Homo sapiens: one gene and its partners. The protein of the gene in region 1 interacts with the protein of each later gene in a pairwise test. Each region holds a gene or a part of one and is shown in the gene's direction. Other genes may lie near its edges. The genes, in order: MOB2, MIIP, STK38 and OR5H1.

The links.
Region 2: the proteins of MOB2 (region 1) and MIIP interact in binary tests that used the Homo sapiens proteins (3 or more experiments, as listed by UniProt).
Region 3: the proteins of MOB2 (region 1) and STK38 interact in binary tests that used the Homo sapiens proteins (3 or more experiments, as listed by UniProt).
Region 4: the proteins of MOB2 (region 1) and OR5H1 interact in binary tests that used the Homo sapiens proteins (3 or more experiments, as listed by UniProt).

Annotation. Positions count from the first base shown.
Region 1 is NC_000011.10:1,476,396-1,484,572, reverse strand, and holds part of MOB2 (MOB kinase activator 2), read left to right. Parts: intron 1-3,686; coding exon of another isoform or gene 3,687-3,687; coding exon 3,688-3,848; intron 3,849-4,086; coding exon 4,087-4,180; intron 4,181-8,177. UniProt on the Homo sapiens protein: Stimulates the autophosphorylation and kinase activity of STK38 and STK38L.
Region 2 is NC_000001.11:12,029,086-12,033,310, forward strand, and holds the end of MIIP (migration and invasion-inhibitory protein), read left to right. Parts: coding exon 1-56; intron 57-72; exon of another isoform or gene 73-137; coding exon 138-196; intron 197-679; coding exon 680-809; intron 810-942; coding exon 943-1,039; intron 1,040-2,180; coding exon 2,181-2,318; intron 2,319-2,455; coding exon of another isoform or gene 2,456-2,476; exon of another isoform or gene 2,477-2,636; coding exon 2,637-2,723; 3' UTR 2,724-2,960; downstream 2,961-4,225.
Region 3 is NC_000006.12:36,522,909-36,531,085, reverse strand, and holds part of STK38 (serine/threonine-protein kinase 38), read left to right. Parts: intron 1-5,443; coding exon 5,444-5,495; intron 5,496-6,622; coding exon 6,623-6,745; intron 6,746-8,177. UniProt on the Homo sapiens protein: Serine/threonine-protein kinase that acts as a negative regulator of MAP3K1/2 signaling. Converts MAP3K2 from its phosphorylated form to its non-phosphorylated form and inhibits autophosphorylation of MAP3K2.
Region 4 is NC_000003.12:98,125,751-98,134,358, forward strand, and holds the start of OR5H1 (olfactory receptor 5H1), read left to right. Parts: upstream 1-4,970; 5' UTR 4,971-5,100; intron 5,101-6,929; 5' UTR 6,930-6,947; coding exon 6,948-7,889; 3' UTR 7,890-8,608. UniProt on the Homo sapiens protein: Odorant receptor.

The DNA of each region.
Region 1 (8,177 bases):
CAGCAAGGTGTGCTGAGACCCAGGCTCTGTACCGGGTGGCTACTGGGGGCTCTGCCTGGCCGGGTCTTGGGGGAAGGGGTCACTGGGAGCCTTGACTTTCAGGCTCTGGGTGGACCAACCAGCACTGACATTCACCCGAACCAAGGAGCATGAGGGGCCCGGTGCAGATGGCTGAGTGGGGTCCAAGGACCATGCCCTCCTCAGAGGCGTCACCTGCGGGCCTTTCTCCTGCACCCCACACGCTGCCTGGTCACCGTATTTTCCAGGCCTGGGCTTGGGGACTTGTATTTCTGGGCCCCTCGTGCCTGCCCCACCCCTTGGCGTTGACCTGTGGTGGGAAGTGCCAGATGAGGGCCACCTCCTGCTGCTGCCCACTCACCTCAGGGTCTACAGGCTCGACTTCCATAGCAAGCGTGCTCTGGGCGAGTGGGGGTCTCTGAGCCTGGAGCACCCCATTCCTGTGGGCCGTGGGGCCTGGCCAGGATTCCATCCCTGTGATAATGAAGTTGACACTCGTGGCAAAGGTGCAGGGCACTCGGTTGTGCTGTCCTCGTCCCTCAGGGCGGATGAGGAGTGGGCGGCTCCCAGCCCACTCCCCAGCTCCCCCTGCCTGTGAAGCAGTGTGCACCTGCTGTGGGCAGGGTGAGACCCCCTGTGTGTTGACTGTGTGGTTGTCTAAGTTTTCCACGGGAGCCCAGCAGCTCTGATGCCTCCCTGTGCCCCTTCCCTTGCCCACCAAATTTGTGTCTAGCAGGGATTGCCTCACTTCCCAGTAGGGATCAGTTACGTGCTGGGTGCCAAGGAGGCCGACTGGCACGTCATGGGTACCACTGGCGAGAATGGGGAGGGTGGCATTTGACAGGCTCTTAAAGGACCAGGAGAAGTTTGCTAGGCCTGGTGTAAGATGGGCAAGTTGGCAGAGCAGCAGCTGGTGCCCACAAACAGGGTGCAGACCCCTGTGGCAGGCAGGACAGGTCATCTAGAGCAGGGAGGAGGGAGGTGAGGCTGGTGAGTGTGTGGGAGGCAGGAAGGAGGTGGTTCCATCTGGCCCGGCCCTCCTAAGTGCATGGTGCCTGCCAGGCAGGACCCAGGCTCAGAGCCCACCTGTTGGAATAGTGTGAGGGACTTTGTTTTGGGGGCTGTGCACACAGCATCTGCCCTTCTGCTTCTTCCAAGTGGTCACGGAAGCCCTGTGGGTGGGCTGAGGTCCAGGGTCCACTCCCCAGTCCCTTCAGCGCCATCTCTGTCCTGCCTGCGGCCGGGGCCTGCTCCCACAGTCCTCCCTCCACATCGAAGGACTTGGTCTTTCTGTGCCCCGGGGCTCCTAGCCAGCAGCACAGGGGGAGCTGGGAGCAGGGCGCAGGGCCTCGGCACTTCCCTGGGTGAGGGGCAGCTGGGCCACTGAGGCAGTGACTGGGCAGACCTCTGGGCCTGGACGGCACAGAGCCTGTTTCAGAGCCTGTGAGCCTGCGGGGGGCGCCGCAGAGGTGTTTTCTCCACTGGGCAAAGCCAAGAATGACTAAGGACGAGAAGAGTGCCATGGAGGTGTCGTGTGCTCTGAGGCCTCCTCGGTAGCTGCCGCTGGCTTGGACCGAGCAATGGGCTGCCTCAGAGTGACTGCTTCCTGCCCAGGCCTGGGCCTTCGCTGAGAGCCTGCCCTTCTGGGAAGGAGGGCACTTGAGGTCAGGGAGACGTGGGTGCTGCCAGGCGTTCGGGGCTTTCCCATGGAAGTCCCTCTGTTGGTGCCCGCACAGCCGTTCCTGGAGCAGAGGCCATGTCCTGCGCGTCCCCTTGGTCCTACTACCTTTGGGCCAGTGCCCGTCCACCTGCCCCATGGGAATGAGTGACCCGGTCCAAAGAAGGTAGGCTTGCAGGAGGCTTGTCTCACAGTGCACTAAGCTCCGGGGCCCGGCCAGCCCTGGGTGCTGGGGACAGGGTGAGACTGGGGGAGCAGCTCGGGGAGGCCCAGCCTGGAGGGCCTCGTGCGTACTTTTCTTCTGTGTTCTAGGAGAGCAGGTGTGGACGGGAAGAGGCAGGGAGGCTGAGGTGCCAGTGCCGGAGTGGCGGCTGCTCACTACCTCCTGACCACAGCCAGAGCCTGGGAGAGGGAAGCCAGGTCTCCAGGTTCTGCCCCTGCCCAGCCCTCTCTGAGGACCGGAGGTGGAAGGTAGCCCCAGCCTGGAAGGCTGGCAAGGGGGCAGGAACTGCCAGTAGGGCAGCCTCCCTGAGTGGGCCCTGGGGCACACCCTGAGAGTGAGCGCGCTGACAGCTGCTCCTGCTGGCAGCCCTGCGTGACCGACCACCAGGTAACTGCCACCTGGAGCTTGCCAGTTGACACAGCTCCTAAGACACAGAGCAGGGAGACGGCTTGTAGCCCGCTTGGCAGCCTGGGCCACTGCAACCCACCCCTCCAAATGGGAAGGCCGAGCCCAGGCTGTAGCTGCCCGGGTGGGGTGTGGTGTGCTGTGCTGTGAGAGCACAGGGCAGGGAGGTGCAGGCCCACCTGCCGGTGGTCAGGGCCAGGCCCAGCGTCATGGGGAGAGCCTTCCCTGTGGTGGACACGCTGGGCATGGCCTGGCACAGGCTGGTGTGGAGTCTGGGTGCCTCGCTGTGCTGGGGCGAGGGGCTGCAGGCTACACGGAAGCTCACCCTGTCTGTCCCACCCCTGTACTGTGAGGACCCCAAGTGCCCACGCTGCATGTGGCCCATCCACACCTGTGCTTCCTCTTCCTCAGACCCCACGCCCTGTGCTCTGGAGAGATGGCAGAGTGGGAGTGCCAGGGCCCAGGGGCCCTGCCCCTGCCCCTCCCTGCCCCTGCCCCTGCCCCTCCCTGCCCCTGCCCCTGCCCCTGCCCCTGCTCCTGCCCCTGCTCCCTGCCTGGCTCTGGCTACTCCCAGCACTGCCCCCAGAGGCCTGCGCTGGTCTCCTTTTAAGGCGAAGATCTGCTGTGAGAAGCTGAAAGGGAAACATTTCCCTGGCATTCAGGGAGCATTTTTCCTTTCTCTTTCTCTTAAATAAACCATTAGCAACTTTTCAAAACAAGAAAGAAAAAAAATAAGGACAGGGTCAGGTTGCCACAAAGACCTTTGGCCCCCATCCTCATCACCCTGTGGCCTCCCCAGGCCTGGTGGACAACAGGGATACTGGAGCTGCAGGCCAGGCTGCCGCCTGATGCCAGGGGCCCCGTGCTCTCAGGCTGGCCAGGAAGGCAGGTGCCCTGCACAAGGCCTGTGGTATGTTTTCACCGGGGCCACCAGCGGCAGGGGCAGGGACAGGCTGGCCAACTCAAAAGAAGCCAGGAGTGAGAGGGTTTGCTTCTCCTTTCCTTCCAAGAGCACTGGAAAACTGGAAGGTGGGCGCTGGGGGCCCTAAACCCTGGGCCCCTCCCTGGTTGGAGGACTTGGTGAGGGGTGAGGATGCCCTCCGTGCAGGGGCCCGTGTGGCAAGTGGGAGCGCCAGCCCTTCTTCCCAGGAGGTGCCACGCAAGGCAGCTCCACTGGCCCCTCTGCGGAGCAGCCTCACCGTTGGTGTCCCGTTGGTGTCCTTTGAGCCTGGCAGGGAGGCAGTGTCGCCCCGATGGGCTCGGGCAGCTCCCTCTACACCTGCGCTGGCCACAACTGACCCCCCGGGCAGACCCTGGGTCTGATGGGCGTGTAGTGACCACACCGCGTCTCCTCTCTTGGCAGGAAGTCCAAAGCCAAGCCTAATGGCAAGAAGCCCGCTGCGGAGGAGAGGAAGGCCTACCTGGAGCCTGAGCACACCAAGGCCAGGATCACCGACTTCCAGTTCAAGGAGCTGGTGGTGCTGCCCCGCGAGATTGACCTTAACGAGTGGCTGGCCAGCAACAGTGCGCGGGGGCCTGGGGGCGGGCCCCCTCCCTCCTCCCTGCTCCTCCTCGAAGCCCCTCCTCAAGGGGGACCCCCACGGCTGGTGCTCAGCAGCCCCCTGCCGCGAGGGGAGAATGTGGCCCGTGGACGGGCAGAGCTCACCCAGCCGAGCTCCTGCACCTGTTGCTGGAAGCAGGGGTGGACGGGGCGGCTCAGCTCTGGCGTTTTTCACATCTGGCTCCTTCTCTTCTCTTCCAGCCACGACGTTTTTCCACCACATCAACCTGCAGTATAGCACCATCTCCGAGTTCTGCACAGGAGAGACGTGTCAGACGATGGCCGTGTGCAACACGTGAGTGCTGCCTGGCTACAGCCCACTTTCTCTTGGGAGACTCGGTGGGGCTCTGAGCCCCCGCTGCCCCAGGCTCCTGTCCTCTCAGATTCCGTTCTCACCTGGAGACCCTGAGAAGTCTTGGCACAGGCCTTCCACAACATCCACCTTCCTGTGGAAAGGCCACAGGCTGGGCCAGTGGCCCAGCTACCCAGGTCCCCAGTGGGGCCCAGAAGGTGCAGGAGCTGGTGGGGGTTGATGGGCTATGTTTCTAGGGACAGAGACGTTTCCAGAAGGAATGCCCTAAGATTGCAGAGAGCCCTTCTCCGCTGGCTCCCGTGACAGCTCTGGATGGGACAGTGAGGGCTGGGCTGGGCAGGCCACAGGTCCTTGCTCGGCCATTCATTTCATGGGGGCTCAGTTACCTTCTCCGTGACCATCCAACATGCCTGGTGCTGGTAGCTCTCTCCTGGAAGCACTGCACCCTGATTTCCTCAGTAAATGGGTGTCCGTTAGTGGCCCTGAGCACCTCACTTGCGTAGCATGGGAAGGAGCGCCGCCAGGCCTGGGTTGCTGAAAGCAGCCTTGGAGGCTGCAGGCAGGAGGAGGCTGGGTCTGCTGGGCTTAGCCTGGGACATGTGCGGCTGAGGAGGGCGGAAGCTTTTCCCTGATGTCCCGTTGTTGTCAGTGCACACAGGTCAGGGACAGAATGTGTGCCTGTGAGTGCGTCCTGAAAGTCATCCTGCCCACAGACATGGCTTTCCTGGCCCTGGCACAGGGAGACGTGGTCCCCAGACAAAGCTGAGTTCTGCCTTCAAGAAGCCAAGGGGAGCTTCTGCACAGGCAGCTGGCAGGCGTCCCCTTGGCTTCAGTCCTGCTGGGCCCTGCCCTCATGGCCATGATGGGTCACAGCTTGGTTTGGTTATGGGTGACACCGGGGCAGGTACAGACAACAGCTGGCTTCACTGTCTTAATTCCCCAGGAAAATGAGGTGTCACAGCCAGGCATGGCCCAGGAAGATGGGGACAGTGCTTATGGCTTTGAGGGGAGCAAGCTCAATGTGAGACGGCGGTGGCCTCCATGGATCAGGCATGGAGATGGGTCCTGAGGTGGCAGGGCAGCACCCGAGAGCTACTCGAGAGCCTTGTGTCCACTGTGGCTCTGGAGCCACCTGTGGCCAAGTGCTGGCTCAGCGCCTCTGCTCCTGGGCAGACGGGGCCTGGCACCCTTCCCAGAGGCTCTGCTCCTGCATGTTCTGTGGTACTGGGTTGGTTTGGAAAAGGGGTCCTTGGAGGAGTGTAGGATGTGGTGTTGGGCAGACCTATGTCCCCTTGGAGGGCCTAGGCCACCCAGATTTGCCTCTTGGTCCTTCTCATCTGGAGCTGGCATCATGGTGGTAGTAGATGTGTGTGAATTAATTGCATGTAATGCCTTTCCAGGAATCCTTTCAAACCAAGGGACAGAAATCCACTCAAACTAAGAGAAACATGGAGACTTCTCAGAGGGCCTCAGGGCCACTTGCCACCCAAAAGACCAGCAAGTCTGCCTGGGTCGTGTGAGGGCTCTGGGATTGAGGCGCGTCTCCTCCCTGCTAGGGCCTGTAGGACAGTCCCAAAAAGGCTGATGTCTGACTCCTAGGGAGACGAGAAAGGGGGCGGGGCCGGAAACACATTGCAGCAATAATGGCTGAGAACTTCCCACAAAGACACAAACCTGCAGACTTAAGAAGCTAAGCAAACCCCAAATAAGGCTCACAGACACGTGCAGATGCATGCAACCAAATGCTGAGAACTGGGGGCAAAGAAAAAGCCCTTGGCAGCCATCCTCTGTCAGCAGTCAGACGGCGGTGGCCTGGTACTGACAACAGATGCCGCAGTGAATGACCGTGGCACTTTTAGAAACCCAGGAGGCCAGAAGGAAGAAGGAAGCCCCACACATCTTCCAGTGCTGGGAGAAAAGAAAGGTCATCCCAGAATTCCACATCCAGTCAGTGTCCAAAGTCACTCAAAACCAAGAGCCCTCACAGCCAGCAGACCTGTTCCAGAGGCTCCCTGCAGAGTTCTCCCAACAGGAGGGCCTCCTCCCACTGAGTGTTTGTGGAGACGCCAGTGATGGTGCAAGAAGACAAGAGTAGTGTCCGGCAGTGCCTGTGCAGTGCCGTTCCCAGGGCGGCCGTGGGGCCTGTGCAGTGCCATTTCCAGGGCGGCCGTGGGGCCTGTGGTGGCGGTGGGGCTGTGGCGGCTGTGGGGCCTGGCGGCGGTGGGGCTGTGGGCAAGAGAGCTGCTATGCTCCAGTGGAAGCACATGTGTGGGTGCCATGGAGAGCATGTGGGGTTGAGTTGCGTGTTACAGCCCTTTGAGCAGGCCTTGCAGAGCTTATGTGAAGAGACGCAGTCAGAATCAGAATAGGTAAATTTAAATGAAATACAAAAACATTTCAGTGGCCCAAGAGAAAGCAGGAAAGAAGAAATACCATAAGGAATGAGAAACAGAGGCAACAAACAGCAAATAGTGGAAAACCTAAATGCTAACAGATGAACAGACGGGACTGGGCAGCTTATGAGAATGTATTTTTAAAATAACCAACTCTCTGGTGTTTACAAGAAGCTCATTTGTTGTATTTCATTCGGGATGCTGTCACGAAACATGATAGGCTAGGTGGCTTGTGAACAACAGAATCTTATTTCTTGCGGTTCTGGAAGCTGAAAGTCCAAGGTGAAGATCCACTGTGGACCAGGAAGGGGGCACTGACCACGTCACTGGATCTGATTAGCCAGATTCAGTGTCTGGTGAGGGTCCCTTTCCTGGTCCACAGACAGCACCTTCTTGCTGGAAGGAAGGCAGGGCGACGGAGCCACCAGTTCTGTTCATGAGCGTTCTACCCTTGCAACCTCATCGCCTCCCAAAGGCCCCATCTCCAGATACCCTTGCGTCTGGGGTTAAGCTTTCAACATAGGAATGTGGGGCATAAGCACCCTGTGTGTCACACCACTCTAGGTGCTGTGGTGCAGGCGGGTGAGAAGTAAGAGGACAAGATGTGCTGAGAAAACACCCATCAGAAGGAAGCGGAAGTGGCTATGTCAGTGCCAAAGGAGACTCCGAGGAAGGAAGTGACCAGGAATAAGAAGGTTATCTAATTAGAAAAGGAGCAGCTCTTGAAGAAATCCTGCCATAAATGTGTGTGCGCCAGACAACAGGGCTTTCCACACAAAGCAAACGGACGGCCTGTGTAGAAATCACATGATCGCCGGGGATTGCAGCCCTCTCCTCAGTGATGGAGCCTCATAGACAGTCAGCGAGAGCACGGAGCCCGATGACCCCACCCGTGGGTTGGATTGAAATGACACATGCACTGCAGCCTCAACAGCAGAACACCCATCTTTTCAACTTCACAAAGATTAGCCACCAAGATGGAGCATACCTGTCACAAAAGAGCCCTTAACAAATTTTAAAAAATCAAAACCATACGAAGTAAGTTTTCTGACCATGGTGGGGTTAAATTAGAAATCAGTAACAGAGAACAGGAAAGTCTCCAAACACTTGCAGACTAATACAATTCTGAGTAGTCCATGGGTCCGAGAGGATGCCTCAACAAAAAAACTTTAACAAACTGTACACAGGAAAATACAGCATGTCAGAATTTGTGAGACATAACTCAAGCAGTGCCTAGAGGGGATTTATAGGATTAATGCTTTCTTAGAAAAAGAAGATGACTTTCAGTAATCTACGTTTCCAACTTAAACTAGAAAAAGAGCAAAATAAGTCAAAATCAAGGACAAGAAAGTAAATAAGAACAGAAAGCACTGAGATTGATTTTTAAAACAATAGGGGAAATGAGTGAAATCAAAATGTGATGACTTTGAAAGGTAATAAATTGGTAAGCCTTTAGTAGGTACAAAGATAAGAGAGAAGATGCAATGATCAATAAAAAGGAGTGAGTGTCACTAAACCCTGTGGATGTAAAGAGGAGTATCACTGTAGACCCAGTGGATGTTAAAAGGATAATAAGGAAGTATTGG
Region 2 (4,225 bases), on another chromosome or scaffold:
AAGCTGCAGGAGTTTCGGGAAACCAACAAGGAGGAGTGTATCTGCAGCCATCCTGAGTGAGCAGGGGCGGGCGAGGGTGGGCGAGGGCGGCTGAGCGGCTCCATCCCCCGGCCTGCTCATCCCCCTCGCCCTCTCAGACCCCAGTTGCCAGGCCTGCGTGAGAGCAGTGGCAGCGGCGTGGAGGAAGACCATGAATGTGAGTGCGGGCCCTCGGCTAGGCCGCTGAGTAGTCCAGCCTCGCGCTGCCCTGGCCTCCCCTGCCCCAGAGCAGTCCCATTTGAGGTTTGGGGCCTGGGGAGGCCCCTGAGATGTTGAGACTCATGGAGGGAGGCCTGCAGTCTGGACAGGGTGGCCAAGCCCTGGTAGGGGTGGAGTGAGCTAAGGCCTGGCCACCGAATTAGGGGCTGCCCTGTGTGGCACCATCCCACCCTCCCCAGCAGTGCCCCTGTGCTGGTGGGACTCCATCCCAGCTCCTGAGGGCCCCAGGAGGATGTCCCTCCCCACCCCTTAGGGCGTGGGCCCCAGGTTCTGGGAGGAAAGGGGTTAGGAGGAAATGGGCCGAAGGGCTTCCCAGAGGGATTGGCAGCTTGTGTGGTTGGGGGCCGCTGAGGGCAGCACGGAGCCTGGGGACCTGGGTTCCTGGCTCAGGGAGAGCTGTGGCTTCTCATGGGCCTCGCAGGCGTGTACTGTTACCGTGTCAACCGGCGCCTGTTCCCGGTGCCTGTGGATCCCGGTACCCCCTGCCGCCTGTGCAGGACACCGCGAGACCAGCAGGGCCCTGGGACCCTGGCGCAGCCAGCGCACGTCAGGTGAGTGACCAGAGTATTGGGACACCTTGGGGGACAGAGCCTGAACCACTGGTTTTAAGAAAAGATGGGCCTGGGCGTGGGCCCCCAACCGCTGGGAGGCTCCTCAGGGGTCCCCCACTGCCCCCCTGCGCAGGGTGAGCATCCCGCTGTCGATCCTGGAGCCCCCGCACCGGTACCACATCCACCGGCGAAAGAGCTTTGACGCCTCTGACACACTGGCCCTGCCCCGGGTGAGCAGCCACGTGGGGCTGGATGGTGATGAGGGCGGGGCTGGCTCAGACTGGCCCAGATCCCCAGGGAGGGTCACAGAGCGAGACTGGGCTCGACAAGGGTGAGCGCCCAAGTCTCTGGAGCACAGCCTGGGCCTCTTCCATCACCCACACCTGTACCTAAGGGAGGTAGGACCCCCGCTCCACGTACCCCGGTGCTTCCAGGGTGATCTGCCTGCAGGCTGGCATGACATGAATGGGTCCTGTTTATTGCGCTTTTGTGTACTGCAGGCACAGTCCTTAGGGGGCTTATCTCATGGAGCCCCCACAGCAGCCAGGAGTGTAGGCACTGCTGTACCCCCACCCTGCAGGTGGGGAGACCGAAGCAGAGGGGGAGGCGCCTTGGTGGAGGAGCTGGGATTCGAACCTAGGTCTCTGTGCTGCTGCTGCTGCTTTTTTTTTTTTTTTTTTTTTTTGAGACCGAGTTTTGTTCTTACTGCCCAGGCTGGAGTGCATTGGCATGGTCTCAGCTCACTGCAGCCTCCACTGTAGTCCCAGCTACTTGGGAGGCTGAGGTGGGAGGATCGCTTGAACCTGGGAGGCAGAGGCTGCAGTGAGCTGAGATCTCGCCACTGCACTGCAGCCTGGGTGACAGAGTGAGACTCCATCTCAAAAAAAAAAAAAATGTCCTTTCCTGTGTCTCCAGGTCGGGATGGGGTGCCAGTGGCAACTCCCCCTGACTCCTAAATTGAGAGTAGGGCAGCTGGGGTCAGAGGAGGAGAAGGATGCAGAGGAAAGTCAGTTTGCTGGTCCGTAAAATGGACATAACAGCGCCATCCTCAGGGATGTTGGTGGTGAGGTGGGGCTGTTGAGTGAAGCAATCCATGCAGGTGCTTGGAGAGCCTACAGCAGGAAGTACCCTGTGAATGTCACTGTCACCGTCCTATCCTCCTCCCATTTCAGCTCTCAGGGCCCCAGGGATGGCTGGATCTGCCAGGATAAGAAAGGGGAGAGCTGGGGTAGTCTTGTGGGTAGACACAGGCCCTGCCTTGGTGGGGGCCTCCTTCCTAATGGGGGGCACAGTTCCTCCCTGATGGGGGTGTGCCCAGTCAGCGGGGAGCTTGTCCCAGGTCAGGCACTTTTAACTCCTTGCCTTCCACAGCACTGCCTGCTGGGCTGGGACATTTTTCCTCCGAAGTCTGAGAAAAGCTCAGCCCCCAGGAACCTGGACCTCTGGTCCTCTGTCTCCGCTGAGGCCCAGCACCAGAAGCTGTCCGGCACCAGCAGCCCTTTTCACCCGGTACGGTCCAGATCGCATCCTAGCCTGGGGTGCCCCCTAGAGGGACAGAGACCTCGCAGCAGGCCTGGGGACTGCAGAGCCTCCTGGGGGGTAGGATTGAGGTGGGGAGGATGGAGCCTGGGAGTGTCTCTCTGCAGGGTCCAGCCCTCCAGCCCTGACCCTAGCCATCCCTCGGAACTCCTCTGCTCCCTGCCGCCTGCCCTGCTCCACCCAGGAAGGCCACCCTGACTGCAAGATCCAGGAGGGAATGTGGCTGGAACTGGGGATGACCTGTCCCTTTCAAGTGGCCCCCCTGAGACTTCCCTATTCCCCATCCAGGCCTCACCAATGCAGATGCTGCCCCCGACCCCGACCTGGTCAGTGCCCCAGGTCCCTCGGCCCCACGTCCCACGGCAGAAGCCCTGAGGACTGACTCCTGGGGGAGAACAGCATTCCCGCCGCCTCCAGCCTCTCCCCTCTGGCAGGCGCACCCAGGAGATGGAATCCCCTGCCCGCCCAGCTCAGGCCCAGCTGTCCTAGGTTGGGCAGGTGGGTGGACCCAAGCTTGTCTGCTGCCTGAGTTCCAGAGAGGGAGGACCCTGGGGTGGAGGGTGAGGGATTCTGTGGAAGTTTGTAAATAAAGCTCAGTGCTCTGCAGCTCAAGTCCCACGTGTGCTGGTTCCATCCTGCTAATGCACTTGAGGCCCAGAAGGCACTCTGGCCTCTCAGCCTGCCCTCCTGGCACCTGTGGAAGGAAGATACTGCAACCACTGGGACTAGGCAGTGTGTGTCCGTCACCATGAGGGTGGCTCCTTCCGCAGATCCCCAGCTCTGGGTAGTGGCCTCCACCAGATGGGGGAGGGGGGGCCCCTGGGCAGGCTGGGCCAAGGTTATTAAAAAGTCATTTTAGCGAGGGCCTCCGCTGAAGCCGTGAGTCGTGTTGAGTGACTGAGCTCTCTCCTTCCTGGTCCCAGAACCGGGATCCATTGATAGAAGGGCTCTCTGGAAGTCCCTGGGGTCACATGGCTCCTCCACCCAGCCATGGGAGCCGCAGGTCATTCAGAGCCCCAGCAGGGACAGATGAGGAAACAGGGCTGGGCGGTGAGTTGGAGGCAAGGTTAGCAGAGAGCCCAGATGTCCAGTCTGGGAGAGTAGGCAGTGCCCTGTCCTTCACTCACCTCTTGTATGTGTTGGTTGCATAATATGAAATTCTTGTTTTTGTAAGTGGAATAAATGCGGAAACGAGGCATGAACTTTCTCTAAGGTTTCTCGGCTTAGAGATGGAACTGGGCTATGCTGTCCTGGGGCTTTTTCCTGGAGTTTATGAAGCTATAAAAACCTTTCCCTCTCTCTGGAGAAACAAAGTCTGTTTGAGTCCCTGCTTTCCATTATTTTGGGTATACAGAAGTGGAATTGCAGGATCAGAAGGTGATTCTATGTTTTTTTATTTTTGAGACAGGATCTCACTTTGTCACTCAGGCTGGAGTGCAGTGGGGCCATCTCCGCCCACTGCAGCCTCGACCTCTTAAGCTCAAGTGATTGATTCTCTTGCCTTAGCCCCCTAGGTAGCTGGGACTATAGGCGCGTGCTACCACTCCTGGCTAATTTTTTTGTACTTTTTGTGGAGAAGGGGTTTCACTATGTTACTGAGGCTGGTCTTGAACTCCTGAGATCAAGGGATCTGCCACCTTAGCCTCCCAAAGTGCTGGGATTACAGGCGTGAGCTACCACCTCCGGCCAATAATTCTATTTTTAATTTTTCAAGGAAATGCTATACTGTTTTACTTTCCGACCAGTGATGCACAAGAGTTCCAATTTTTCCTCATCGTCAACAGCACTTGCTATTTTCTGGTTTTTCGGTAGTAGCCATCCTAATGGCTGTGAAGTGTATCTCATTGTGGTTTTTATTAGCATTTCCCTAAGGATTA
Region 3 (8,177 bases), on another chromosome or scaffold:
GTTCTTCACTGACCAGATATCAAACCAGAGTGTAGAACTGAAGTAATTTGTTGAGATTTTAAAGAATCTGTGTAGTGTTAATTTTAGGGTATTTCTGGCTGGGTACAGGGGCTCACACATGTAATCCCAGCACTTTGGGAGGCCGAGGTGGGTGGATCACTTGAGGTCAGGGGCTCAAGACCAGCCTGTGCAACATGATGAAACCCCGTGTCTACTAAAAGTACAAAAATTAGCCACACATGGTGGCATATGCCGGTAATCCCAGCTACTCGGGAGGTTGAGGCACAAGAATCACCTGAACCCGGGAAGCAGAGGTTGCAGTGAGCCGAGATTGTGCCATGCACTCCAGCCTGGGTAACAGAGCTAGACTCTTGTCTCCAAAAAAAAAAAAAAAGAAAAGAAAAGAAAAAAAGGAAAAAGGCCGGGTGTGGTGGCTCACGCCTGTAATCCCTGTACTTTTTGAGAGGCCAAGGTGGGTGGATCACTTGAGGTCAGGAGTTCGAGACCAGACTGGCCAACATGGTGAAACCCCATCTCTCCTAAAAATACAAAAATTAGCTGGGCGTGGTGGTGGGCACCTGTAATCCCAGCTATCCGGGAGGCTGAGGCAGAAGAATCACTTGTACCCGGGAGGCAGAGGTTGCAGTGAGCCGAGATAGTACCACTGCACTTCAGCCTGGGTGACAGAGTAAGACTCTTGTCTCAAAAAAAAAAGTATTTATTAGACATTTTCTGAATTTTAATCATGGAGATGTAATCACAGCCCTTTCCCCTCCCCCTCCGCTCCCCTCTTCTCTTCCTGACAGAATCTCGATCTGTCGCTCCTCTTCTCTTCTCTTTTCTTTCTGACAGAATCTCGCTCTGTCACCCAGGCTGGAGTGCAGTGGCACGATCTCAGCTCACTGCAACCTCTGCCTCCCAGGTTCCAGAGATTTTCCTGCCTCAGCCTCCTGAGTAGCTGGGATTACAGGCACGTGCCACCACGCCCGGCTAATTTTTGTATTTTTAGTAGAGATGGGGTTTCACCATGTTGGCCAGGCTGGTGTCCAACTCCTGGCCTCAGGCGGTGTGCGAGCCTCAGCCTCCCAAAGTGCTGGGATTACGGGTGTGAGCCACCATGCCTGGCCCTATTTCTGTTAAATACACTATTTTTCCTGGTTTTCAGTGTCTCACCAAAATACTGTCTGTTTTCAATTAGGGTGGAATAGCCCTATTCTCTCATCCCTGCTACCTCCAAATCAGGCTATGCCAAGAGGGGACCCTAAATTAGATTAGAAAAGGGGGCTAATTGTAAGTAGTAGTCATGAATGTGTCTGCACATTGCTATACATTCTGACTTTTTAAAATTTAGCAGCATACATTTAGAAAGTAGCTGTGTACAAAGCACTATTCTTAGTGGACATAGGGAATTCAGATATAGTCCCTGCCTTCAGAAGGACTTACCACTCTCTCATATAAGAAATGAACACACACGCAACTAAATGGAACACATGGAAGGCATCACTGGGGTGAGGCTGGATATGGCCTCTAAGTGTGAAAGTGGCTTCGTCTCTCTCCTAGGGTTCTGGTTTTGAACATTGGAATTGAAGGGAAGAGTGGCTCCACCAAGGGCTGGAGTGTTAGTTAACCTGGCACTGCTACCAGAGAACATGCCTGTGTGGAGAGTCCTGCTATTCTTTTTCATTATGAACAATTTTAAACATAGGTGGAATAATATAGTGACCCCGTTTCAATATATTCATCCCTCAGATTTAATAATTTTAGGGCTTTGGTACATTTTCTTCATCTATCCCATTTTGTTTTTTCTTGCTATTGTGTTTTAAGGTAAATTCCAAACATCTGTCATTTTAATCCTACATACTGTCAAGTATGCATTTCCAAAAATATGGCCATTTTCTTGCATAATGCAAATGCCACCATGAATCTAACCAAGTTAACAGTAATTCCTTTGATGTCATCTCACAGAGGATGTCATTTTTAAGTCTCATTTCAGGCTGTCCTTGCTGTTTTTGGTGTCCTCAAGGTCTTTGTGGACCTGGTCCTAATTGTTATCATGGATAGGCTTTTTTTTTCTGGATACTTTCTCTAATGAAATAATCTGATTGTGTTCAAGGAGTTAACTTCACTCTCAGGCAGGTATTCTGCAACCAATTTAATTACACTTCAGTAAACCTGTGGAAAACCTCTTAGTTTGTATTTAGGTTTAAAATATAATTAGAAGGAGCCACTTTTGTGACACAGTGGATAGTGCATTGGACTGGTAGCCCATTCTGATGTAGTCATTCAAAAACGTGTAGTCAGGACGTATGATGGTGTTTAGTACTCAAGGCACAAAAAGAGCTGACCACAGCTGTGTTCTTAGAGCTTTTGCCTAGCATGTTATGCTTTGACTTTTCTTGTTCTTCTCTGCTTCAACTACCTAACCACTTGCAATGGAATTAATTTACACTCCCGAAACTACTAAGAGTACAGCCTTTTCTCTCTAATACATGTGCACGCATAGATGCACATGTATCCCAAAATATTCTGGGAACTGGGAGAACTGTTCGTGTTCCTCTCTCTGTTTCCTGTCTTGATTAGTGGCATCATATCCCTCTAGACAGGAAATTCTAAGGTTTTTCTCTTGACTCCTATTGCCAGTTGGTCATATTTGCAATAGCTCTATTCACTTCATTCTAGTTTTCCTGCCCTAGTTCCAGATCTTTACTGTACATCTGAATCATTACAATAACTCTCAACTAGCCTCTTTCTCAGTTGCTTTCCCTGCCAGTCCATCAGATCCTCATTACTGCTGGTTACCATTCTAAAATAGAAATCTTATCACATCACTCCTTTGCACACAAGCCTCTTTTAGCACTCAGTTGTCTACAGAATGAGATCCAACCTTCTTGGTGTGGCATTTGTAGTGCTGTGTGCGTCAGCCACAATGGACTACATGCTATTTCTGCAGCATACTGTACACTCTTTTTTTTTTTTTGAGATGGAGTCTCGCTCTGTTACCGAGGCTAGAGTGCAGTGGTGCGATCTCGGCTCACTGCAAGCTCCGCCTCCTGGGTTCACAACATTCTCCTGCCTCAGCCTCCCGAGTAGCTGGGACTACAGGCGCCGGCCACTACACCTGGCTAATTTTTTTTTTTTTTTTGTATTTTTAGTAGAGATGGGGTTTCTCTGTGTTAGCCAGGATGGTCTCGATCTCCTGACCTCGTGATCTGCCTGCCTCAGCCTCTCAAAGTGCTGGGATTACAGGCGTGAGCCACCGCACCTGGCCAGCATACTGTAGTCTTATCCTTCTTTGCTCTGTTTGTACACATTGCCTGTTTATCTGGAATGCTGATGAGTGGTGGAGGAGAGATTCTAGCCCATGTGCTTTCATTTATTGTGCTGAATAAATGAAGGTTCTGTGGAATTGGTTGTAAGGAAGTTTTACTTGCTTCTTTTAGTTTTATGAGACTATAGATCAAAAACATTACTGCATGTACTTTCTAAAGTTCAGTATTCCAAAAGTTTGATGTCTGAAGGTTTTTTTTTTCTTTGAGGCAGAGTCTCACTCCGACATCTGAGCTGGAGTGCACTGGTGTGCTCTCGCCTCACTGCAACCTCTGCCTCCCAGGTTCAAGTGATTCTTGTGCCTCAGCCCCTCCCAAGTAACTGGGATTACAGGCACCTGTCACTATGCCCAGCTAATTTTTATATACATATATGTGTGTGTGTGTGTGTGTACTAATATATATACATATATTACATATATGTGTGTGTATATATATGTGTGTATATATACGTATATACATATGTGTATATGTATATATGTATACATGTGTACATATATACATATGTATACATGTGTATATACATATAAATATATATATATATACATATATTTTTTTTTTTTTTTTTGAGACGGAGTCTTGCTCTGTCACCCAGGCTGGCATGCAGTGGCGTGATCTTGACTCACTGCAACCTCTGCCTCCCAGGTTCAGGCAATTCTTCTGCTTCAGCCTCCTGAGTAGCTGGGACTACAGGCGCTCGCCACCACGCCTAGCTGATTTTTGTATTTTTAGTAGAGACAGGGTTTTACTATGTTGGCCAGGCTGGTTTCGAACTCCTGAATTTATGATCCACCCTCCTCAGCCTCCCAAAGTGCTGGGATTACAGGCGTGAGCCACCACGCCCGGCCTTTTTGTTTTTTTTGAGACAGGGTCTCACTCTGTCACCCAGGCTGGAGTGCAGTGAGTGGTGTGATCTCTGCTCACTGCAGCCTCCACCTCCTGGGTTCAAGTGATTCTCCTGTCTCAGCTTCCCAAGTAGCTGGGATTACAGGGTATGCCACCATGCCTGGCTAATTTTTGCATTTTTAGTACAGACCAGGTTTCACCATGTTGGCCAGTCTGGTCTCGAACTCCTGACATCAAGTGATCCACCCGCCTCGGCCTCCCAAAGTGTTGGGGTTACAGGCGTGAGCCACTGCACCTGGCCTAATTTTTATATTTTTAGTAGAGATGGGGTTTCACCATGTTGGCCAGGCTGGTCTTGGACTCCTGACCTCAAGTGACCCATCTGCCTCACCTCCCAAAGTGCTGGGATCACAGGCGTGAGCTACCACACCCAGCCTGATATATGGAGTTTTGATAGTGGTGCCAGTCACCTTTTTGATCACTTTTTCCCCTTAAATTTCCAAATTCTGCTTTTAACTTTGTTGTTTGTTACCCTTTCCTCATGGCAGGGAAGAGGAGGAAGATGCAGAAATAAAGGAAGTAGACTTCAGTCAGAGAGAGGGAAAGAAACAGCATGATATAAGAGTTTATCAAATACCAGCTGTTTTGTGGTTTGGTAAGGAGGAAATAACTGGAAAAAAAAAAAAAAAAAAACACCCAAAACCAAGAGAGGACATTTTTTTGAAACAAGAGTCTTTGTTGCATTAACATCTTAGACAGTCTTTTAAAAAATGTAGACCTAAGGGCGGGGCATGGTGGCTCACACCTGTAATCGCAACACTTTGGAAGGTCAGGCTGGAGTTTGAGACCAGCCTGGGCAATATAATGAGACCTCATTTCTACAAAAAATTTAAAAATTAGCCAGGTATGGTGGCACGCGCCTGTAGTCCTAGCTACTTGGGAGGCTGAGGTGGGATTGCTTGAGCCTGTGAGGTGGAGATTTCAGTGAGCTGAGATTGCGCCACTGCATTCTAGCCTGGGTGACAGAACAAAACTCTGTCTCCTCTCCTCGCAACCTGCCCCCCTCCCCCCGCCAAAAAAAAGTAGGCCTAACAAAGGATGGAAATCTTTTTACTTGTCTTAGTAACTTAATTTTTTTTGTTTTAATGAGACATTTTGAGATTTACCTGTTTGTGTCATTTTTAAAAATCTACTACAGTATTAAGTTACAGAATTTTCAGAAAGTTATCATTCAGATGTGATTTCATGTCTTTTGTTTTTGTTTGTTTTAGACAAAAGAAGTTAGAAAAGGTGATGGAAGAAGAAGGCCTAAAAGATGAGGAGGTAATTAATATTGGCAATGTTTTCCTTAAAACCCAGCGTGGCAGGTTGTATCTTGTCCAGTGAGTTGTTAGCCTTGGTACACATGAGAAGGGTTTTGGCTCAATAACAGAGGAACTTGAGGGGTAGTGTGCTTCCGGATTTGGGTGTTAATTCAGAGGGACAGATTAATTATTAAGTACCTAGGAGAGGAAGGCTTCTCTAGATGCAGTTATAGTAAACTAGATTTAGAATTCCAAGAGAAAGCAGGGATGAAATCAAATTAAATTTTAAAAGAGCAAGTTGTAGCATTTTTATAGAATTCACTGAAAAGTCTCCGTAGGAGTAGGGCAAATTTTTGAAATATTTATTTATTTTACTTTTTCTGGGATACATACGTGTGCTGAACATGCAGGTTTATTACATAGGTATATATGTGCCATAGTGGTTTGCTGCACCTATCAACCTGTCATCTAGGTTTTAAGCTCCGCATGCATGAGGTATTTGTCCTAATGCTCTCCCTCCCTTTCCCCCCATGCCCCGACAGGCCCCGGTGTGTCATGTTCCTGAAATCTTTATTAAGGCAAAATATCCATCTCAAATCAGCCCTTCCACCCAGTGCCCACAGATACAGTAGGAGAAAATATAGTTAACAAGGGACTGTGCAAGGAACTGAAATGGTAGTGGAAATGCCTTCAAAAATAGGACTGGCTTGCAGAACCCAGGACGGTGGTGAAAAATACCCAATACTTGTAGAAATAACAGAAAGTTAGAGTATACAGTGTTTAAGCCAGAGGGAAAGATAAGAACACATTTTTAATTTATATTAAACAGGATAAAGGAAAATATTGTTGATTATTTATCCCTCCCTTCACCAAAAATGTTAGGATAGTGGATTGCTGAAGTAGGTTAGTCAGAGTTCCCAGAGGAGGCACCCATCTGTTCAGTGTGGCTTGGATGTTGTGTCTAAATGCCAGGAAAGGGAGAAGTGACCTCTTAAGGATCCTTCTGGGGTGATTTCATATGTGAAAAGATTATCCTTAGTCCACTTGGACCTGTTTTCTAGCTGGGTAAGTCACAAACATGACTTGTTACAGAGTTTCAGAATTTCAGTTCCTTCCCGTCTCCTCCCTTTTTTATTTAAATATTAGAAACGACTCCGGAGATCAGCACATGCTCGGAAGGAAACAGAGTTTCTTCGTTTGAAGAGAACAAGACTTGGATTGGAAGATTTTGAGTCCTTAAAAGTAATAGGCAGAGGAGCATTTGGTGAGGTAAAAATCACAGCTACTTGTCAAGTAGAAAAATATTGCAAAACTTCAAAGCTTCTAACATACCATTAAGTCATGATTGTTGATATAACAAATATATGGAATTAAATGAGTCAGGCATGCCAGCCCCACATCCTAATTGCTTTGTCTGTCTGCTTTCTCTTTTTCTTCTCTCCGCAGTCCCAGATCTCTGTTCTCTGTTTTGCCAGAGATGGTGTTGGTGTTTAAATATTGACTTAGGGGGAGAGTTGAAAGGTAGAAGGAAATCAACATTTATTATTTACAGGCTGCTTTTTTCCCATAATCAGGACAGTAACCCATTTTATAGATGGTGAAATTAAGACTCTAAAGGTATATATAATGTCTCTTGTTATCACACAGCCATTGAGTACTGGGACCAAAAGTTGGGCTCTACTTCCTGAACTCAAAGAGCTTGCTTTTCCCAGTACTGCACTGCCTCTCGAGAAGGAAACTAATAGTGTATCTCCACCCTTTATTTCTCCCCACCAGATTGATACAGCTCTAAAAAGATGACCCTAGGAGGGAGGATTTACAGAAAGGAGTTATATAGGTAGTGGTGGAGAGTTGAAAGCATTTGCGACTTTGTCCCCGCAATTCTTGGAAATGATCCTGCTTGGGCACAAGAGCAATCTGTTGGGGAGAGCTTGAAAGAGCCCATGCAAGGTCATTCCTGTTAATGAAAAATGCCCAAACTGGATGACCTACTGACGCAATAATTGCAAGTATAAAAGGAGCAGTATATTATTAAAACCTGGTACCCCGGGGCCAGGCACGGTGGCTCACTCCTGTAATCTCAGCACTTTGGGAGGCCAAGGCGGGCGGATCACAAGGTCAGGAGTTCGAGACCAGCCTGACAACATGGTGAAACCTTGTCTCTACTAAAAATAGAAAAATTAGCCGGGTGTGGTGGCACGTGCCTGTAATCCCAGCTACTCAGGAGGCTGAGGCAGGAGAATTGCTTGAACCCAGGAGGCAGAGGTTGCAGTGAGCCGAGATTGCACCATTGCACTCCAGCCTGGGTGACAGAGCAAGACTCCATCTCAAAAAAAAAAAAAAACAAAAAACCTGGTACCCCGGGGAAATGTGAATAGTATTCAGAGGCACAGGTGATAGATTGATCCCTCAGTGTTCAGAATTCCTATTGGCTTCTTGAAAGAGGGAAAAGTATAGTACCACCTCTGAAAGAGCTTTCTGTTTGGCAAGGAAGGGTTGTGGTACTCAATTAGGAAAAACATGAAGAAAGGTTCAGGGAGAAGAAAACCTACTTATTTTGGGAGAAGAGGGGAGGACATGCAGGAACTTGCAGTGAAATTTTTCTTTTGGTTGTAAATTTTCTTCATAAAATTATCTGTTTTCTTTAAGAACATTGGAAAACATAAAAGAGAAGGAAAACTACATAAAACACAATTTCCCT
Region 4 (8,608 bases), on another chromosome or scaffold:
TGTGGAGTACCATGACAGTCAAGAAGAAATTTGGTAGGTCCACGGATGGTAGCTTTGACAGAAGCATTGTGCATAGAGAAGACATTTCTGTATCCAGATTGAGTATCTATTCTATTAGGAAAAAAACACTGCTTCTTTCATGATAGAAACTGTCCAATGTAATCAACTTGACATCTAGTTTAATGATTACAGATTGAGGACTCAGTGTTGGCTTCTTTTTCTGGTTGATTGAGCACCTCACAGTGGCCCTAGACAGGTTGGCTTTGGTAATTGGAAATCCATATAGCTAAGCCCAAGCAAACCTCCATCCCTATCACTAGAGCCACTTGAGACTAACTGGTATCATAGAATGGGTCATTCTATCCTCTTGATTATTAAAATCCTCAGGAGAATTTTAATAATCAAGAGGATACACTGGTGAACATCCACATGAGCTACAAACACTGTCTTTAGTCCACTTGTGCTGCTATAGCAGAATACCACAAAGACAGTAATTTACAGGAAACAAAAATGTACTTTTTCAGAGTTCTGGAGGGTAGGAGGTCAAAGACCAAGATGTCAAGATGTCATCAGAATGGATTTTCTGGTGAGGACTGCGATCTGCTTCCGAAATAGATCCTTCTTGTTGCATCCTCTGGAGGTGGAGAAACACTGCATCCTTATGTGGTCGAAGGTGGAAGGGCGAGCAAACTGAAGACTCTTTTACAAGGTCCTTAATACCATTGAAAATGGAAGCATCCCTGATGACCTAATTGCCTCTTAAATTTACAACATTTAGGAGGTAATTTAAAAGGTACCATCACATCGGTTGTTAAGTTTCAATACCTTAATTTTGGAGGTAAAACAAACATTAGCATACTGCTCACGGCCTCCCAAAATTCATGTCCTTTTCATATGCAGAACACATTAAATTCTATCTCAATAGCCCAAAAAGTTTTAGCTCATTTTAACATTAACTCAAAAGTCTAAAGTCTCATCAAGATATCAACTAAATCAGGTATGAGTAAGAACTAAAGGTATGTTTCATTCTGAGGTAAATTACTTTCTAGCTATAAACTTGTGAAATCAAACAAGTTACATGCTTTCAAAATACATGATGGGCCAAGCACAGAACAAATATTTAAATTCCAAAAGAGAGAAAAGAAGGAATAACAGGTCTCAAGTAAGTCCAAAATCCAACAGTGCAAACAACATTAAATCTTAAGGCTTCAGTATACCCTTGATGCCATGTCCCACTTTCCAAATACACCGTGTTAGGGTTGCATCAATAAGGCTCCTGGTTCCTTGCTTCTCTGTCTTTGTTGAGTGCATCCTACACTGCAGCTCCGATGGATTGCAGTCCAGTGCCTGTAGTTCTCCAGGATGCCACTGTAGCTAGTAGCTATACAGGTCTGAGGTCTTCTGGCAACTCTGTTTCCACAGATCTACTGAAAATTGCCCCACTTGGGAGTCTCTGTGGTGGCTCTGACCCTGTGACAGGTCTCTGCTTGGGTGTTGAGATTATCTAAGGCATCCTCCAAAACCTAGGTGGAGAAATCCATGTGTCCGTTCTGCAGGCTTGTGAATTAGCATCACATGGATGTCACCAAGGCTTACCAATTCTGCACTCTGGGGCAGTAGCTTGAGCTGCAGGTGGGCCCAACCTGAGACACAACTCAGCTGGCAAAGGAGTTCTGTGTCATAATGCAGAGAGCACAGACTTGAGGTGGCCCTGGGCAGTGAGTCCCAAGTTCCCCTCAAGGTCCTGGCACTCTGGGACTGTAATACACATGGCAGGCTTGAAGATATCTGAAATACCTTTGGAGTCATTTTCCCATTGTCTTGATGAATAGCACTTGGTTTTCTTCTTTTTATATTAATATCGTGATCAAATGGTTACTTGGCCACACCATTGACTTTCTTTTTGAAACGTACTTTATTATTCTTTACCTGGCCAGGCTGAAAATTTTCCAAATCTTTACATTCTCCTTCGTTTTTGATTACAAACCTCATCTTTCAATAGCTCCTCTCTCCTTACATTTACTATAAGCCATTAAGAGAAGCCATGCAGCAACCCTCAACACTTTGCTGCTTATATTTTTATAAGCAAATATTTTTATAATATTTTTCTGCCAAATATTATAATTCATTGCACTTAAGATTTGCCTTCCACAAAGTCCTAAGACACAGACACAATTCAGCCAAGTACTTTGCCACTTTATATCAAGGAGAGTGTTTCCTCTAATTTCCAATAACAGAGTCCTCATTTCCTTCTAAGACATCATCAGAATATTTTTTATCATCTGTATTTCTACCTACATTCTGTTCATGACCACTCTAGTAATCTCTAAGAAGAACGAGGCTTTCCCTAACGCTCTTCTCTTCTGAATCCTAACCAGACTTGTCCTTAATGCTTCATTCCTGAAAAATACAGGCTTTTTCCATCATTCACTTCAAAACTGCTGTAGCCTCCACTCATTACCTCTTTCCAAGACACTTCCACACTTTAGGTATTTGTTATAGGGACACTCCACTTCTTGGTACCTATTTCTGTCTTGACCTATTTGTGCTGCTATAACAGAATGCCAGAGACTAAATATTTATAAATGATGAAAATTTATTTTATTATAGCTCTAGGAGCTGGTATTTTCAAGATCCAGATGCTGACAGGTTTGGATGTCTCATAGGGGTCCCGTCCCTGCTTCTAAGATGGTGCCTTGATGTCTCGTAGGGGTCCCATCCCTACTTCTAAGATGGTGCCTTGAAAGCTCTTCTGGAGGAGAGGAACACTGGGTTCTCATGTGGTGAAAGACAGAAGAGCAAGGAAACTGAAGGCTGTGTGAAACCTTTTTTATAAGGGCTTTAGCCCATCAACAAGGAAAGAAGCCCTTATGACCTAAGCACCTACTAAAAGCCCCACCTCTTAATACTGTCACACGGGCCATTGTTTCAACACCTGAATTTTGGAGGGGAAACATTCAAACCATAGCAGATATCTACATAATTTATACCCAGTTAGAGACATCTCTCCAAGCACCTTCTCTCAAATATCCTTTTCACCAGTATTCTAATTATGCTCCTTCCAAGTCCCTGATCATCCAGCCTAACCATTAGTCATAGCCTATAAATTGATACATAATCACACATTTATTTATTTCTCCTTTTAAGCAAATTGGACAACCAAGTACATCAGTTAAAATTTTTCTAACTGGGAGGATTTCCCTTCACCATGGTCCTTCCAAAATGTCCCAGAAAGGAGCAGTAGTGCTGCAGCCACCCGCCTGAATATGGTGCACAACCATTTGTATCCAGGTCTGAGTCTTCTCTTCCACTGTCAATCGATTATAAGAAACTCCCTATGAAGCTATTGCTGAAGGCTTGCAGAGATAAGGCAGTGTAGCAGAAGTAGGGACATTAATAATTTACCTTTGCGTTAGTCCGTTAGTCTGTTCTTGCATTACTATAAAGAAATATCAGAGACTGGGTAATTTATAATGAAAAGAGGTTTAATGGACTCACAGTTGCACAGTCTGTACAGGAAGCATGGTTGAGGGGGCCTCAGGAAACTTACAATCATGGGGGAAGCTGAAGGGGAAGCATGTATGTTGTACATGTCCAGAGAAGGAGGAAGAGAGAGAAGGGAGGAGGTGTTACACACTTTTAAACAACCAGATCTTGTGAGAACTCACTATCATGAGAACCGAAAGGGGAAGTCCACCCCTATGATCCAATCACCACTCACCTGGACCCTCTCCAACATTGGGGATTGGAATTCAACATGAAATTTGGGTAGAGCAGCAAATCCAAACCATATCACCATCCATAATCCAAGTGCAGGCAATTTTATTTCTTTAATAAATACTTTTGCTGTCAAGAAAGGTACATGTCACTATTTAAATATGAAATATAAATATTACAAGTAGGTAAATTAGGTTTTCTTTTTTGAATGGATGCTCCTTAACATGTTATTCTGTTAATGCTCTAAAGAAAATTCTGAACATGCTATCACCATTTTCAAAATCGTTCAATAATAGTTCATTGGTTTTCCTGTAAGTTGGGGTAAAGAACATATCTTTGAACTACCCGACAAGGTCCCACCCATGCTGGCCTCCCTGAACACACTTGGTCCTTCCTGATTCTCTCTTTGCATACCAGCCACATTTATTATTTGTTGTTTCTTCAATGATCAAGGCTTTCTGATAATCTAGGTCTTCCCACCATGAAGACCTGTTGGATGCAAATGTCCACAGGCACTGCTTTGTTAAAAATAAAGGCTCTTGAGAGACCCACCCCAGAATTACTGAAACAGAATCTGCGTTTTGACAACATCACTAGGAAAATCATAGGCATTATAGTTTGAGAAGCACAGACCTAGGACACCTCCCACTGCAAGCCACTCCCTGGCTTTGTTTTACATTTGCTTTTTGTCTTCTTCCTAGTAAAATTTCCCATTGGATTTTAGCTTATAATGGGGGATCTAAATATATGTCTAAAATTTGCATGTCTGAAATTTGCATGGGAAGGACAATTGTATTTGAGGTTGCTCCCAAAGAGGATCTAGAACTTTGGCTTTATTAAAATTATGTTTTGGTTACTTCAAATAAGACTATACTAATTAAAGCACTAACAGTAAATTTTACATATAAACTAAAGTTTGAACAAATATGCCAGAAGTGTCATCCATGGTGGTAAATAGTAACATAAAGTGTTATTTCAATTGTTAAAACTAGAAGTGTCTACCATGAAATGATGTTTGTGATTCCAGAAGTTTGTAATGCCCTTGGGGACAACCTGAACTTACACTTGTGCAAATGCACAATGCCCATTAGAACAGCTTCAATTTGTCCTACAGGGAGTCCTCTGACACTGTTATGAGAATTTCAGTTTTTCATTCCTTTCTCTTCTGGCAAAAGACCCTAGTGGCACAACTGGGTCATTTATGTGCTCAAAGCATATTTAATAAACAACATTTTTCTATGCTTGGAAAAAGAAACCTTCAAAAAGAATGAATATGCCATGAATGGCTACCTGTATTATTGACATTGCTGTGCTACTGTATGTATTTTTGTTTAGAAAGCACAACGTGTTTAAAGGATATCCACAATTTCCTTCAATATATGGGTAAGGAAGAAATAACTTCTCTAATTTTTATTATAATTTATAGAAATGTTGATAATGCCATTTAATTCATTAAAATTTTAGATTGGGTAACAAGTTGTCATAATAGAAAGTCAGAAACTGGATGACTCTGACTGGACTATTTTTATATTTTAGTTTTATGACTCTAATATGGATAAAGAGTTATAAGACTGAATTTTTCCTTTAATATTTTGCTATTTTGTTAATCTTATTATGATGAGTTTATATAAATTAGGGCATTAAACAACTAAAACTTGGTTTAAAGATTCAGATAATAATGATTCTTAGAATTATTTCTTGGAATTATTCTGATATAAATACCCATTCCTCTGAATCAACCACATTCTCCAATTAAAACTTTTAAGGTGAGTCACTTACATATTAACTCCTGTATCCTTACACTCATGTTTGACAATAATTTGAGAGCTCACACTGTAAATTTTGTTGATGTGAATAAAGGTTGCATTAAGTAAAGTCCTGGTATTTTGGCTTTGGCTGCCTTGAAACCAATATCTTTTGTCCCTCTCTCCATATTCCAAATGTAGGATCAGTGTATTTAATTGGCCATCCTAGATCATGTCCCTTCACTTTAGATGTAAGAAAAATGGGAAAATGAGTTTCTAGTTCTTTTGGCAGTATGTTACCTCTGACAGCCACTATGATTTCGATGGCAAAAAAGGAGATCACACCTTGGCCATTTACAGGACATATGTCCACCTTGTTACCTCCTTAATATAACTTGCTCAAGTTGATTTTCTTGCCATTCCTTTTGGTTCTGTTTTACACTCCAAGGATGCATCATCTTTAACTATGCCTTTGACTGCCTTTGACTACCACAATGAATCCAAGCAATCATTTCTATTGAGCTCTAATAGGCTCATATTACTGATTGGAACACATCTAGTTGTCCAGATGATGCTCACTCCAAAAACTTGTCAGCACACCTGAGTTCTCAATGTTTAATATCCATCTTCCCAGTCACCAAGGGACTCCTCTCTCCTTCACTGACCACTTACTGCCTACAAAATATGTCACAGAATACTAGAGACTCTACATTCTGAATTCTTTAGAATCTATTTCTTTGTCTTACTGTCTCTTTCAATGTCATATCACACCAAGACCATACATTTAACATGCATTTGAATCCCCCGGAGGGTATTTTCAAAATGCAGATCCCCAGACCTAATTCCTTAAATAACTTCTACATTAAAACCTCATAACATATTTTTCATAAAAACTCACTCAGATAATTTTTATGTGTAATGTGATTTGGGATTGCCTGGGCCTTACTAACAAGTTTCTAATTAATATCCCTGAGTACAGTTTCTTCTTCTTGCAGCATATTTTCTACACTATCAAAAACTAAATTAAAAAAAATTAGGATGTAATTTCCCATCTTAAAATTTTTGGCACATGCTTATTGTATGAAGAATAAAGTTTAAGATACTTCACATGGCATTTATTTTATTTATTTTTAATTCAGACCGTACAAAAATCTTTCCTGTTGACATTGTATCATATGCCAGTCAAACAATTTTTCTACTGCACTCAATAGTGTCCATATAAATGTTGTGCATACAGAGAATGCCTCTTGTTTTACCTAAATCTGCTAATTACTGCACAGTTTCAAACCAAAATATATCATTTTTTCATGTCTTTATTGCAACAAATAGAGATTCATCAGCTATAGGACTGATCAAAAAATTGAGAGGGTTCTGATCATTTTAGGTTTTCCTTCAGCACCTCTTCCCCAATTTCAACTGATAATGCCATTGCAAATGTTCCCTTTCATTTGTTGCATTTTATTTTAGAGGGCATGCTGTGAGGACATGGAAGAGGAAAATGCAACATTGCTGACAGAGTTTGTTCTCACAGGATTTTTATATCAACCACAGTGGAAAATACCCCTGTTCCTGGCATTCTTGGTAATATATCTCATCACCATCATGGGGAATCTTGGTCTGATTGCTGTCATCTGGAAAGACCCTCACCTTCATATCCCAATGTACTTACTCCTTGGGAATTTAGCTTTTGTGGATGCTTGGATATCATCCACAGTGACCCCAAAGATGCTGAATAACTTCTTAGCTAAGAGTAAGATGATATCTCTCTCTGAATGCAAGATACAGTTTTTTTCGTTTGCAATCAGTGTAACCACGGAATGTTTTCTCTTGGCAACGATGGCATATGATCGCTATGTAGCCATATGCAAACCTTTACTTTATCCAGCCATTATGACCAATGGACTGTGCATCCGGCTATTAATCTTGTCATATGTAGGTGGTATTCTTCATGCTTTAATCCATGAAGGATTTTTATTCAGACTAACCTTCTGTAACTCCAACATAGTACATCACATTTACTGTGACACTATCCCATTGTCTAAGATTTCTTGTACTGATTCTTCTATTAATTTTCTAATGGTTTTTATTTTCTCAGGTTCAATTCAGGTATTCAGCATTGTGACTATTCTTGTATCTTATACATTTGTTCTCTTCGCAATCTTAAAAAAGAAATCTGATAAAGGTGTAAGGAAAGCCTTTTCCACCTGTGGAGCCCATCTCTTCTCTGTCTCTTTATACTATGGACCCCTTCTCTTCATTTATGTGGGCCCTGCATCTCCGCAAGCAGATGATCAAGATATGGTGGAGCCTCTATTCTACACTGTCATCATTCCTTTGTTAAATCCTATCATCTACAGTCTGAGAAATAAGCAAGTCACAGTTTCATTCACAAAAATGTTAAAAAAACATGTTAAGGTTTCATACTAATATCCTTTCTCTAATTACAAAAATAGTCACAAAATTATGCAAGTTAGAGGTACCTATGTTGTTTCCAGTGTTCAAACATTTTTGCAAGTACAACTGTTCTAGCACTTTAGTGAGCTAATGTTTTAGTACCTAATAAACTAATCGCAATATGTCTATATGTTATTCAAAAGCATTCAAGAAATTTTCATACTGTTCATAATAGAATAATGACTGTAGAAATCAAATAAAACTATTTAACAGTTGTATATGTTATTCAATGTGCATTTATAAATGCATTAATTGCTAAAATAGCCTAGTTTATCATATAAGGACTTGAGTATGATGGTTTTGATACTAATACTACTGAATTACCTGCGATATCCATCATATACCATAACTGAGGCAGATTTGTTTTTGAGTGAACAGAGGTAAGTCCCAATGATTCTGCTAACCATCAAGGTCTTCCATTTCATTATATTAGGAAAGGGTGAATTCTGTTTCTTGAAGGAAGTCAACTCGCAGGTCAGACAGAAATGGAAATGCAATGAGAAAAATAAAAATAGAAGGAATGAACAGTGAAGGCACTGCCATAGTGTAAGAGCATGCTCTTAACTCTATGTGCTCGTATGAGTAAGAAGAGGCAAGCTGCCTCTCACTTTCTAGGATGGCTTCTAAGGCCCTTCCCAGCTATGATTATATGATTTTAGACAACCTGGAAGCCTTCCCTAATTCAGGAAATT